3 separate regions of the Homo sapiens genome follow, and all the other regions are linked to region 1. Evidence: fine-mapped expression QTL. A gene starts in region 1. Each other region holds a variant in brackets. All regions are shown on one strand. Distances are between the middles of the regions.

Region 1 (4,239 bases):
CACTCCTTGCTATAACAAGTCATCTCTCCACAATGAGAATACCAAAATACCTTTCGTTTATAATCAACAGACGTCTTTAAAATGCAAGTGTTTATTTGAATAATTAAAATCACGAAAGCAGTGATTTTAATGATGGCTCGAATATATTAAAAATATAATTATGGATTGGAAGGAAACATCTTGAAACAGCTTAAAAATCTTCGTATCTGCTTCTAGACAGGAAATCCCACACAAAATCTAAAATTGCCAGGAAAGGTTACAAAACCTCGCGTTTCGCATCCCAGAGGGGAGGGAGAAAGGGAGCCCAGGCGCGGGGGGTGGGGCTGGGGGAGCACGAGAGAGTTTTCTCCTAAACACGTATTTCCTCGTTTTCTCGACGCTGCAGCGGTCCCATTATAGACGCATTTATTGCCCCTCTCTTAAAAGTCGTTTTAAAAATAACGCAGGAACCAAAGCGAGCCCCTCGGTCCGAAATGTACGTGTAATTCCTTATATAGCCTGGGCTGCGGCCGGCGGCAGGGCCGTTGCCGCCCATTATTATACAAACAGGTACCGGGGCGGCGCAGGCGGGGGCTGCTCTCCCTGCGCTCCCGCCGCCCCCGGGCGGACAAGTCTCGCCCCTCTCGCCACAGGAACTGTCCAGACAATAACAATCAGCAGACATTTCGCTGCTGCACGAGAGGGAGAGAAAGCATAGCATCGCCCCGAGATAACCAGAAATACAATCAACTTACAACGTCTCTCCAAACTGGAAAAGGCGACTGTGCAACCACCACCACATGTTCAGGTCTCGATCCCTCGGGCTGTCTCTCTTTTTTTTTAACTCTCACGCCAGGCAGAGGGGTGTGTGTTTCCCTTGGCACAGCAGCACAAATCAATAAACACTGCAGCTGCGGTGCAAGTAGCAGCCCCGCGCGTCCGTCGGTCCGTCCGCCCCCTCCCCCACCCTCCTTCCACCCGAGACCCAGAGCGCCATCCAAGCCCCATTATCCGGCTTCAGCGCTCCGTGCGTCCGGCCCAGGTAACAACTTCCCCAAAAACCGAAAGAGAAAAGCGCGAGGCGCACGCACACCGGCCCATCCCGGCGCAGAGACCTCGTCTGCCCCGGGAGGGGGATCTGTCTGTGGTGCTTCCCGGTCTCTAAGCCCAGGTAACAACTCCGCAAACACACCCGCCGCCCAGCTCGCCCCCATCCGCGCGGCTCCCGGCGGCGTTAAGTGGGTACCTTTCCTGCCTTGTTCCCCGCGCCGCCCCGCCGCGCCCCGCCAAACGTGGACCCCACTCGCGGGGCTCGCCGCGGAGTCCCCAGGCCGGGGCTCTGGGCCGGGCAGCGGGAGGCGCCAGGGAGGAGGGGCGCTTAGGGACCCGCGCCCCCGCGCCTCTAATCCCCGTTACGCGAGCGCGCCCGGCCCGCGGGTCCCAACTTTACCGCCGCCGGCCGAACCCTGTCCGCCCGCGGCGCGCACAGCCGGCGCCCGCGCACACGCGCGCACAAACCCCACGCAACCCGCGGCCGCCCCGTCCCGCCGCCGCCGCAGCCCGCCTGCCGCGCGCCCACAGCCCGGCCCGAGTCGCGGGGCCCGAGCGACAGCGACGGCGCCGGCCGGGGCCGCGGCGCGCGGAAGCCACTTTGCACGGTCAGCGCCGGGCACAAGTTTGTTCCGCGGCTCCCGGGGGCCTGGGCGCTGAGGGAGAATCGCGCTGAGGGGGCCAGGAGGAGGGGGAGAGGGAGGCGCCGAAGGGCACAAGAGTGGGGAAAAGTGCGGAAAGAAGCAACAGCCGCTCCACCCGGGACCAGAAAAGTGGCCAGTGCGTCCCGGCCGCCCGCCCTGCGCCGGGGATGCGGCGGCGTCGGCGCCGGCTAACGGTCCAGGGAGGCGGCAGGGGCGGCGGGAGCCGCTAGGCGGAGAGAGACCAGGTAAGAGACATAACGGTTCAGGGAGAGCGAGCGGCCGCGGCGCGGCTCCGGCAGCGGCGGCAGCGGAGGGGGGCAGAGAGCACTACTTTCTACTTTCCCACTCCACTTTGCCGTCCCTGCCCCGGCTGCCCCCAGCCCGGCTCGCCCCCCTCACCCCCGGGGGCGCCCCGGCTGCCCAGCTCCCCCTGACTCCGCCGCTCCCCGGTCCCCTCCGCCACTCACCGTTATTGCGCCGCGGGTTCGCCTGCTTTCTGCGCTTACACCTGGGGCCATCCGCCATGATCCTCTCGCTTGTGTCTAAATGCTCGAGTCACCTCCTCCCCCTCCCTCCCCCTTCCCCCCCACCCCTCCGCCTCCACCCCTCCCCCCTCCCCACCGCACCTGGTTTACGACACTCCCGGCTTTACGACATCACCTTCCTTACACCTAGAGGCTCTCGCTCTACGGCCGGAACCTTGTTGCTAGGGACCGGGCGGTTTGCGGCAACCGTGGGCACTGCTGAATTTGAATTGAGGGGCGAGGGAAAAGTTTTCCTCAGGTGTGGTGGGGAGAGGGAGGCGGATGCCGGGAAACCGTAGGGACGCGGTCAGAAAGGCGACGGGCTGTCGGAGTTGGAAAGGTAAAGTTGGAGGCTCGGCGGCGTCCTGCCTCCGCGCTGGCCACACCCGCCGCGGCTGCCCGGGGCAGGGAGGGATCTGGCTGATTCTCCCTGTACCCTGTGCCCTCGGAGCTGCCCCTCCGAGCGCCCAGAGGTCCCCGCCTGCCTGCTTCCTGGAGGCAGGGCTACCATCAGTCCCACGCCTCGCGTGTCCGCCCCCCGCACCCCGGGGCCAAGGAAAGGGATCGCGGTCTGGACTCCCCGGGGAGTTCCCTTGATGAGGGGAAGGGCAGGTTTGGGGACGGCGAGGACACGCGGCGACCGGAGAGAGGCTACCTGACCCGCGCAGCCCGGACTCCCTTCCCTTCCCTTCCAGGGACGCCTGGTTTCCCCCCAAGCGAACCGGGATGGGAAGTGACTTCAATGAGATTGAACTTCAGCTGGATTGAAAGAGAGGCTAGAAGTTCCGCTTGCCAGCAGCCTCCTTAGTAGAGCGGAATGAGTAATACCCACACGGTGCTTGTCTCACTTCCCCATCCGCACCCGGCCCTCACCTGCTGTCACCTCGGCCTCCCACACCCGGTCCGCGCTCCCCGCCCTCTTCCTCGCGTAGAACCGTGGGATCCTAGGTGGCAGGACTCAGAGCTAAGGTATCCACAGGCCATGAATTCCTTCCTAAATGAGCGGTCATCGCCGTGCAGGACCTTAAGGCAAGAAGCATCGGCTGACAGATGTGATCTCTGAACCTGATAGATTGCTGATTTTATCTTATTTTATCCTTGACTTGGTACAAGTTTTGGGATTTCTGAAAAGACCATACAGATAACCACAAATATCAAGAAAGTCGTCTTCAGTATTAAGTAGAATTTAGATTTAGGTTTCCTTCCTGCTTCCCACCTCCTTCGAATAAGGAAACGTCTTTGGGACCAACTTTATGGAATAAATAAGCTGAGCTGTATTTCAAGTAATATAGTTATAAATTAACAATGTAGCAGTTATTGATAGAGAAATTGAGAAAACTGAAACGTGACCGGAGTATTGGAAATAACGTAGTACATCACCTAGCACAATGACACATAGTAGGTGCTCAATAAATTTATGCTTATAATTTTTGTCACTTCTATGGCAGGATTTTTTTATTAGGTTAAAATTATCTTTTAAACACCTTCCGGAATTTTAGAATATTCATTAATAATGTCTTCAAACCTTTCAACTGAAATAAATTTACAGCTGAAGTCTGATGATTTAAAGTTAGAAAGTTTAATCTTGAATATAAATGAACATTTTCTCTCCCACATTTTCTTGGGCATTTTGAGAAGTAAATGCGTTATTTATTGGTCCATGAAATGTGACTGTAAATATTCTTTGCTATACATTATGTCTATATATCTGCATTCATCCTCAATGCCAAAACTAGAATCATTAGTCTTAATGATCATTTTAAGTACAGGCAGTCCTCGCTTTCCTTGATACCATGTTAACCGAAACTTGTGTATGTCAACACGGTGTCCTTGCTTTGCTTGGTTAAGTGTGAGTTCTTCCTCCCTTTTTTTAAGAGTTGTACAATGTTTTTCAGTCGCCTACCGAATCAGGTCATAGACTATGGAATTGACCCCACCCCACCAACATTTTTACAGCTACCCTGATTTCTGACCAGAAAGGAAAAAAAAACTTTCCAGCTCTATCACACATTTTACCTACTCTTAAACTTAGGAGGTATTAC
Region 2 (4,243 bases), 120 kb before region 1:
CATGTACCCTAAAACTTAAAGTATAATAAAAAAAAAAAAGAAGAAAATATAGGCAAATCCTTTTACAAACCTGGAATAAGAAGGCCATTATAAGCATGAAATGAAACCCATAACTATACACAGAAAAAAATCAAGTCAAAAGACAAACGACAAATTGTGAAAAATATGTGCAACACATATGACTAAAGGCTGACATCTTTATTTTACAGAGAATTCTTAAACACTCATAAGATGAACCACCCAGTAAGAATATGCACAAGCAATTCGCACACACAAAAATGAATGCCCAATAAACATGTAAAAAGATGCTCAACCTCAGTAACAGAAGAAATATCCATTTTAATCTTATATTTTTATAATCACTTCTCACGTACACTCTCAACTTTCTTGCTCTCTCTGGCTTCAAAATCTCTATGCTGGCTAATCTCTTACCTTGATTAAACTCCAGCACTCCTAATTCTATATCTCAGTCCCTCTATACTTCAAAGCTTTTTGGAAAAGTTGCCTACATGTGTCTCTAATTTGTTTCTTCCTATTTTATCTTAAATTACTCCAATTACAACACTCCACCAACACTGTTCTTGTCATGACTGTGAGCACTGCTAAATGCAATGACAATTATCAGTCCTCATTTGACTTGATCTTTTAGCAGCATTTGACATAATTCATTACTCTCTCCTTTTCAAAACAATCTCTTCTCTTGACTCTATCAGTTTCCTCTTAACTCACCAACTGCTTCTTTTTCGTTTCTTTCCTCCACTTCCTCAATCTGTTTCATGGCTCTAAATGCCATTTGTTGACTCCCAGTTTTATATCCCAGGTGACTTCTCCTATGAATCCCAAATTATCTACTTGATAGCTCCACTTGGATTTCTTTTTTTTTTATTATTATTATTATACTTTTAAGTTCTAGGGTACATGTGCACAACGTGCAACTTTGTTACATATGTATACATGTGCCATGTTGGTATGCTGCACCCATTAACTTGTCATTTACATTAGGTGTATCTCCTAACGCTATCCCTCCCCCCTACCCCCATGCCACGACAGACCCCGGTGTGTGATGTTCCCCACCCTGTGTCCAAGTGTTCTCATTGTTCAATTCCCACCTAAGAGTGAGAACGTACAGTGTTTGGTTTTTTGTCCTTGCGATAGTTTGCTGAGAATGATGGTTTCCAGCTTCATCCATGTCCCTACAAAGGACATGAACTCATCATTTCTTATGGCTGCATAGTATTCCATGGTGTATATGTGCCACCTTTTCTTAAACCAGTCTATCACTGATGGACATTTGGGTTGGTTCCAAGTCTTTGCTATCGTGAATAGTGCCGCAATCAACATACATGTGCATGTGTCTTTATAGCAGCATGATTTATAATCCTTTGGGTATATACCCAGTAATGGGATGGCTGGGTCAAATGGTATTTCTAGTTCTAGATCCTTGAGGAATCGCCACACTGTCTTCCACAATGGTTGAACTAGTTTACAGTCCCACCAACAGTGTAAAAGTGTTCCTATTTCTCCACATCCTCTCCAGTACCTGTTGTTTCCTGACTTTTTAATGATTGCCATTCTAACTGGTGTGAAATGGTATCTCATTGTGGTTTTGATTTGCATTTCTCTGATGGCCAGTGATAATGAGCATTTTTTCATGTGTCTTTTGGTTGCATAAATAAATGTCTTCTTTTGAGAAGTGTCTGTTCATATCCTTCACCTACTTTTTGATGGGGTTGTTTTTTTCTTGTAAATTTGTTTGAGTTCATTGTAGATTCTGGATATTAGCCCTTTGTCAAATGTGTAGATTGCAAAAATTTTTTCCCATTCTGTAGGTTGCCTGTTCACTCTGATGGTAGTTTCTTTTGCTGTGCAGAAGCTCTTTAGTTTAAT[T/G]AGATCCCATTTGTCAATTTTGGCTTTTGTTGCCATTGCTTTTGCTGTTTTAGACATGAAGTCCTTGCCCGTGCCTATGTCCTGAATGGTATTGCCTAGGTTTTCTTCTAGGGTTTTTATGGTTTCAGGTCTAACATTTCAATCTTTAATCCATCTTGAATTAATTTTTGTATCAGGTGTAAGGAAAGGATCCAGTTTCAGCTTTCCACATATGGCTAGTCAGTTTTCCCAGCACCATTTATTAAACAGGAAATTCTTTCCCCATTTCTTCTTTTTGTCAGGTTTGTCAAACATCAGATGGTTGTAGATGTGTGGCATTATTTCTGAGGCCTCTGTTCTGTTCCATTGGTCTATATCTCTGTTTTGGTACCAGTACCATGCTGTTTTGGTTACTGTTGCCTTGTAGTATAGTTTGAAGTCAGGTAGTGTGATGCCTCCAGCTTTGTTCTTTTGGCTTAGGATTGTCTTGGCAATGTGGGCTCTTTTTTGGTTCCATATGAACTTTAAAGTAGTTTTTTCCAATTCTGTGAAGAAAGTCATTGGTAGCTTGATGGGGATGGCATTGAATCTATAAATTACCTTGGGCAGTATGGCCATTTTCACGATATTGATTCTTCCTATCCATGAGCATGGAATGTTCTTCCATTTGTTTGTATCCTCTTTTATTTCCTTGACCAGTGGTTTGTAGTTCTCCTTGAAGAGGTCCTTCACGTCCCTTGTAAGTTGGATTTCTAGGTATTTTATTCTCTTTGAAGCAATTGTGAATGGGGGTTCACTCATGATTTGGCTTTCTGTTTGTCTGTTATTGGTGTATAAGAATGCTTGTGATTTTGCCCATAGATTTTGTATCCTGAGACTTTGCTGAAGTTGCTTATCAGCTTAAGGAGATTTTGGGCTGAGACAATGGGGTTTTCTAAATATACAATCATGTCATCTGCAAACAGGGACAATTTGACTCCCTCTTTTCCTAACTGAATACACTTTATTTCCTTCTCCTGCCTGATTGTCCTGGCCAGAATTTCCAACAATATGTTGAATAGGAGTGGTGAGAAAGGGCACCCCTGTCTTGCGCCAGTTTTCAAAGGGAATGCTCCCAATTTTTGCCCATTCAGTATGATATTGGTTGTGGATTTGTCATAAATAGCTCTTATTATTTTGAGATACGTCCCATCAATACCTAATTTATTGAGAGTTTTTAGCATGAAGGGCTGTTGAATTTTGTCAAAGGCCTTTTCTGCATCTATTGAGATAATCATGTGGCTTTTGTCTTTGGTGATATCACCACTTGGATTTCTAATGGGAAATTTTTTACCATAGCCAAATACAATTCCTGGTCTCTCAGTCTTCTCTATTTCAGTAAACGGCAATTCCATTCCTCCAGTTGTTCAGGCCAAAAGTCTCAGTGATAGTTTTGACTCCTCTTTTTCTCTCATATCCCATGCATCTACTCTGGAAGGAAATACCTATAAAAATATATTCAAGATCTGACCACCCACTACCAATTCCCTGCCACTAACTACCTGATGGTACCATCATCTCTCACTTCGAGTACTGTCACTGGTTCCTATCTGGTCTCCGTGCTGCCACCTTTGTCTTCCTGTAGTCAGTTCTCAACACAGCAGACAAAACCTTCTAAAGCATCAGTGGAATCTTGTCAAACCATCTAATGACTTCCCATCCTATTCACTGTAATCCAAGGCCCTCCATGGGCTGACTCTCCTCACCTGTCTCTCTCAGACTTTGTCTTCTACTTTACCCCGGCTCACTGCATTCCAGGTATACTGGCCTCTTGCTTCATATCACTCTACCTGTAATATTCTTTATGAACTGCCCAATTCCACCTCCTCAGGGAGGTCTCCTATGACTGCTCTATTTAAATACCACCCCCACCCCCATTGCACTCCCTATTCTCCCTCAATTTATTTCTTTTAAAAATACTTGTCACTATAATATCTTATTGATTGATTATCTACTACACTACAATGCAAGTTCCATTCAGACAGGAATTTTTTCTGTTTCGATCACCACTGTTCCCCTCATCTAGAACACTGGCTGTAGATACTAATCCCTAGATAAATGATGTTTAGTAAATCGGCAAAAAAGTCCCAGTAACGCCTGACATATGCAAGGTTTAAATAAAAGAGTACACTCTTATATGCTGTGTTACTTTGGCAATATTTATCAAAATTTAAAATGCCGACCTGTTGATCTAACAATTTCTTGGCACCGTGCAAATTAACACATGTATGCAAATATGCATACATATGTTTATCTGAAAACTTGTTTTTAATTACAAAAAAACCTTAATAGTCATCTAAGATATATTGTTTGGTACTGATATAGAAAGTCTTCCAAA
Region 3 (4,243 bases), 160 kb after region 1:
GCAGTAAAATACTGATAGGAGAATTCACTGCCTCATTTTCAATAATGGACAGAACATCCAGACAGAAAATCAATAAAGAAATAGCTGACTGAATAATGCTCTAGACTAAATGGACCTAACAGACATATTTAGAACTTTCTACCCAACAGCAGAAGAATACACATTCTCCTCAAACATATATGGAACATTCTCCAGGATGGATCACATGTAGGTTCCAAAACAAGTCTTAACACATTGAAGAAGACTGAAATCATTCCAAGTATCTTTAAGACCACAAGGGAATGAAATAGAAATCAATAACAGTGAGAAAGCAGGAAAACTCACAAATATATGGAAGCCAAATGGCATTTCCTTGATAATCATTGAGTCAAGAAATCAAAAGAGAATTGTTTAAATACCTCAAAATAAACAGAAATGAAAATGCAATATATCAAAACTTATGAGATGCAGCAACAAGACTACTAAGAGGGAAGTTTATAGCAATAAATGCTTGTTTCCATTACAAAAAGAACACCTCAAGTAACCTAATTTTATAGCTCAAAGAATTAGAAAGAAGAACAAACTTTTCCCAAAGTTAGCTAGAAATAATAAAGATTAGAGTGGGAATAAATCAAATACAGAATTAAAAGAAAGAACAGAAAAATCATCAAAGCTGAACTGAGTTTTCGAAAAAAATAAACAAAATTTGCAAACCCTTAACTAGACAAAATCAGAAGTGAAAGAGAAAACATTACAGTGGATGCCTGAGAAATAAAAAGGATCATGAGGGACTTTTATGAGCAATTGCACACCAATAAATTGGATAGCCTAGCAGAAATGGATGTGCTGCAATAAATATGTAACCTATTAAGACTTAATCAAGAGGAAATAGAAAGCCTGAAGAGACCAATAAGATATAAGAAAATTAAATCAGTAAACAACAACCTTCTAACAAAGAAAAGCTCAGGACCTGATGGCTTTACTGATTAATTCTATCAAACAGTCAAAGAATAATTAATAGCAATCCTTCTCAAACTCTTCTGAAAACTAGAAGAGAAAATACTTTCAAATTCATTTTGTGAACCCAGCATTACCCTGACATCAAAATCATACAAAGACACCACAAGGAAGAAAAATAAAAACTAAAGGCAAATATCTCTGATAAATAAAAAGCAAGAACCCTCAATACCAGCAAACTAAATTACTAGCAAACAAAGTCCAGCAGCACATAAAAAAGATTACACACCATGACTAAGTGGGATTTATCCCTGGGATACAAGATTGGTTCAACATATACAAATCAATCAACATGATACACTGTATTAACAGAATGAAAGATAAAAATCACATGATCATCCTAATAGATGCACACAAATCACTTAACAAATTTCAATATCCATTCTTGCTAAAAACTCTCAAAAAATAGGTATAGAATGAACTTACCTCAACAGATTAAAGGCCATTTATGAAAAACCCACAGCAAATGTCATAATCATTGAAGAAAATCTGAAAGCATTTCCTGTAAGGTCTGGTACATGAATGTCCACACTATGACTTCTATTCAACATAGTACTAAAAGTTCTCGCCAGAGTGATTAGACAAGAAAAAGAAATAAAAGGCATCCAAATAAAAAAGAAAGAAGTAAAATTATCTCTGTTTGCAAATGATATGATTATATATGTACAGAACCCTAAAGACTCTATAAAAAACTGTTAGAACTAATAAATTCAGTAAAGTTGCAGGATACAAAATCAACATGCAGAAATCAGTAGTGTTTCTTTACACCGGCAACAAATTATCCAAAAAGGAAATCAATAAAAAATCTCATTTATAATAGCATAAAAAATAATAAAGTATTTAGAAGTATATTTAAACAAGGAGGTGAAAGATCTATTACATAGAAAACTATAAGATATTGATGAAAGGAATTGAAGAAGACACAAATGGAAAGATATTCTGTGTTTGTGGACTGGAAGAATTAATATTGTTAAAATGTCCATACAACCCAGAGTTATCCAGAGATTCAACACAATGCCCATCAAAATTCTAGTGGTAATTTTCACAGAAATGGAAAATATAATCATAAAATTTGTATGGAACAACAAGCGATCCTGAATAGCCAAAGCAGTCTCGAGAAAAAAAAGAATGAAGCTGGAGGCATCACACTTCTCAATCCCAAAGTATATTACAAAGTTATAGAAAATAAAATCAGTATATTGAAGAGATAGCTACACTCCCATGTTCATTGCAGCATTATTCACACTAACCAAGATGTGGAAACAATCTGTGTCTGTCAACAGGTAAATGGATAAAGAAATTGCTAGATAGAGAGATAGATAGATAGATAGATAGATAGATAGATAGATAGATAGAATAGATGGATAGATAGATAATACATAGATGCATGTGTGTGTGATACACACACACACACACACA[C/TAC]ACTGGAATATTATTCAGCTTTAAAAAAGAAGGAAATTCTAAATCCTGTCATTTGCGAAAACATGGATCTCTACAGCTTCTAGGGGCTGAGAGCTGGGAGAAATGGAGACGTTAGTCAAAAGGTATAAACTTTCATTTATTTGAGATGAAGTAGCTTCTAGAAATCTAATGTACATCATGGTGACTATAGCTAATAATGCTGCATTGTATACTCGAAATTTGCTAAGACAGTGAATCTTAAGTGTTCTCATTACAAAAATAAGGTAATTATGTGAGGTAATGGATATGTTAATTAGCCTGACTATAGTAATCATTTCCCAATACATATGCATATCAAAACATCAAATTATATCTCAATAAAAGCAGTTATTTAATTTTTTAAAACCATGAATTTTGGGGGACACATTCAGTGTATTGCAGTTACTTTTTATGGCAAAATACCCCATCCTTTGTGCATTCCTTGGTCCTGCCTCCATCTCTTTCTTAAGGAGTCTCTTATAAAGTAGCTGTGTATTTCCTTAATCTCTTATGCACAAGAACAAAACAAAACAAGAAACACAAAATAAAATTCTTAAAACCTTCCTAGGGGAGCATAGGTTGTATTCATTCTCCCACCTTGTTTCTCCCCAGTAGGGGAATGTTGATTATCTATTCTGGAAGCCACTGGAAGAAAAGACTCCTAGTTTCCGAGTCAAGAAAATCTCCAAATATCTATTAAGTAACTATATTCAGGTGACCCTGGGGAGATTTAAAGATGGATAAGACATAACTTCTGCCTTTAAGGAGCTTAGAGACTGGGGTGAGAGGAGAAGCAATAGGATACTGATTAATATTTGTAGTAAAAGCCAGAACACTCAACATGCCATAGCGAAGTAAAAAGTGAGGGGAGGTCACATTGAAACAGAAGTTAGGAAAGTCTCCATGCAGAGGGTCCCCCTGAAATGGGCCTGGAGGGTTGCATTTCCCTAAGCAGAGAGTGTATTAATGAAAGCCAAGGCACGACAGCATGAAAGCCCAGGCTATAAAGAAATAAAACCACTTTGGGGGGCCGAGGCGGGTGGATCACGAGGTCAGGAGATCGAGACCATCCTGGCTAACGTGTTGCAACCCCATCTCTACTAAAAATACAAAAAATTAGTTGGGCATGGTGGCACGTGCCTGTAGTCCCAATACTACCGTTTGGGTGTACTTATTTCCCAGCTACTCGGGAAATAAGTAGCTGGAGAATCGCTTGAACCCGGGAGGTGGAGGTTGCAGTGAGCTGAGATCGCGCCACTGCACTCCAGCCTGGCGACAGAGCGAGACTCTATCTCGAAAAAAAAAAAAAAAAAAAAAGGAAAGAAAGAAAACCAGAAAGGAAAACTGGAGCACAGTTTAGAGCAGAGGCCAGCAAATGTTTTCTGTAAAAGGCCAAATAGTATTTTAGGCTTTGAAAGCCATGTGGTCTCTGTCACAATGACTCAACTCAGCTATCATAGCACAAATGCAGCCATAAGCCATACGTAAACAAATGGATGTGGCTATGTTCCAATAAAACTTTATTTATAAAAACAGGCAGTGGGCCAGAACGCACAAATAAAGAAACTATAGACCATGAGAAACCACTGAAGATTTGTGAGCAGGAGGATGATATTATAACATTGCCAATGCTATATATTTGGAAAACTAATCTGACTACCGGGAAATGCTATAATAGAATTGGAGGAAGTGGAGTTCCGTGTGGAAATAACAGCTGGGAGGCTGTTACAATGGTTGGATAAGAGGCCTGAATTACAGTATCGAGGGCAGAAATGAGAAGGCCAAATGTGTAGGATATGGTAACTTGTTG

Alleles and levels. Alleles are on the strand shown, and positions count from the first base shown. SD is a standard deviation of normalised expression in the study named. Not every link is listed here.
In carriers of allele C in region 3, the expression in macrophages of the gene that starts at base 2,217 in region 1 tends to be lower than with TAC alone (moderate effect, 0.65 SD a copy in Alasoo 2018).

What was found. PIP is the estimated chance that this variant, and not a neighbour inherited with it, causes the effect.
Region 2: its variant is the best candidate, but not a certain one, in a credible set for the expression of ZEB1 in whole blood (TOPMed, PIP 0.60).
Region 3: its variant is the best candidate, but not a certain one, in a credible set for the expression of ZEB1 in macrophages (Alasoo 2018, PIP 0.65).

What each region holds. Positions count from the first base shown.
Region 1 is chr10:31,317,194-31,321,432 of GRCh38, reverse strand. ZEB1 (zinc finger E-box binding homeobox 1) reads right to left here and starts at 2,217. Exons shown (of 9, transcript NM_001174096.2): 1 at 2,141-2,217. The coding sequence starts at 2,198. It overlaps ZEB1-AS1 (ZEB1 antisense RNA 1), which reads left to right and starts at 2,338. Exons shown (of 3, transcript NR_148979.1): 1 at 2,338-2,537. RefSeq lists silencers at 1,643-1,732, 1,773-2,222, 2,963-3,022.
Region 2 is chr10:31,439,209-31,443,451 of GRCh38, reverse strand. The region is part of intron 1 of ZEB1 (zinc finger E-box binding homeobox 1); the gene reads right to left. Among named protein-coding and RNA genes, the nearest start is that of ZEB1, 120 kb to the right of the region's middle. The variant T/G (reference allele first, on the strand shown) is at 1,888.
Region 3 is chr10:31,158,118-31,162,360 of GRCh38, reverse strand. No RefSeq gene overlaps it. Among named protein-coding and RNA genes, the nearest start is that of LINC02664, 28 kb to the left of the region's middle. The variant C/TAC (reference allele first, on the strand shown) is at 2,416.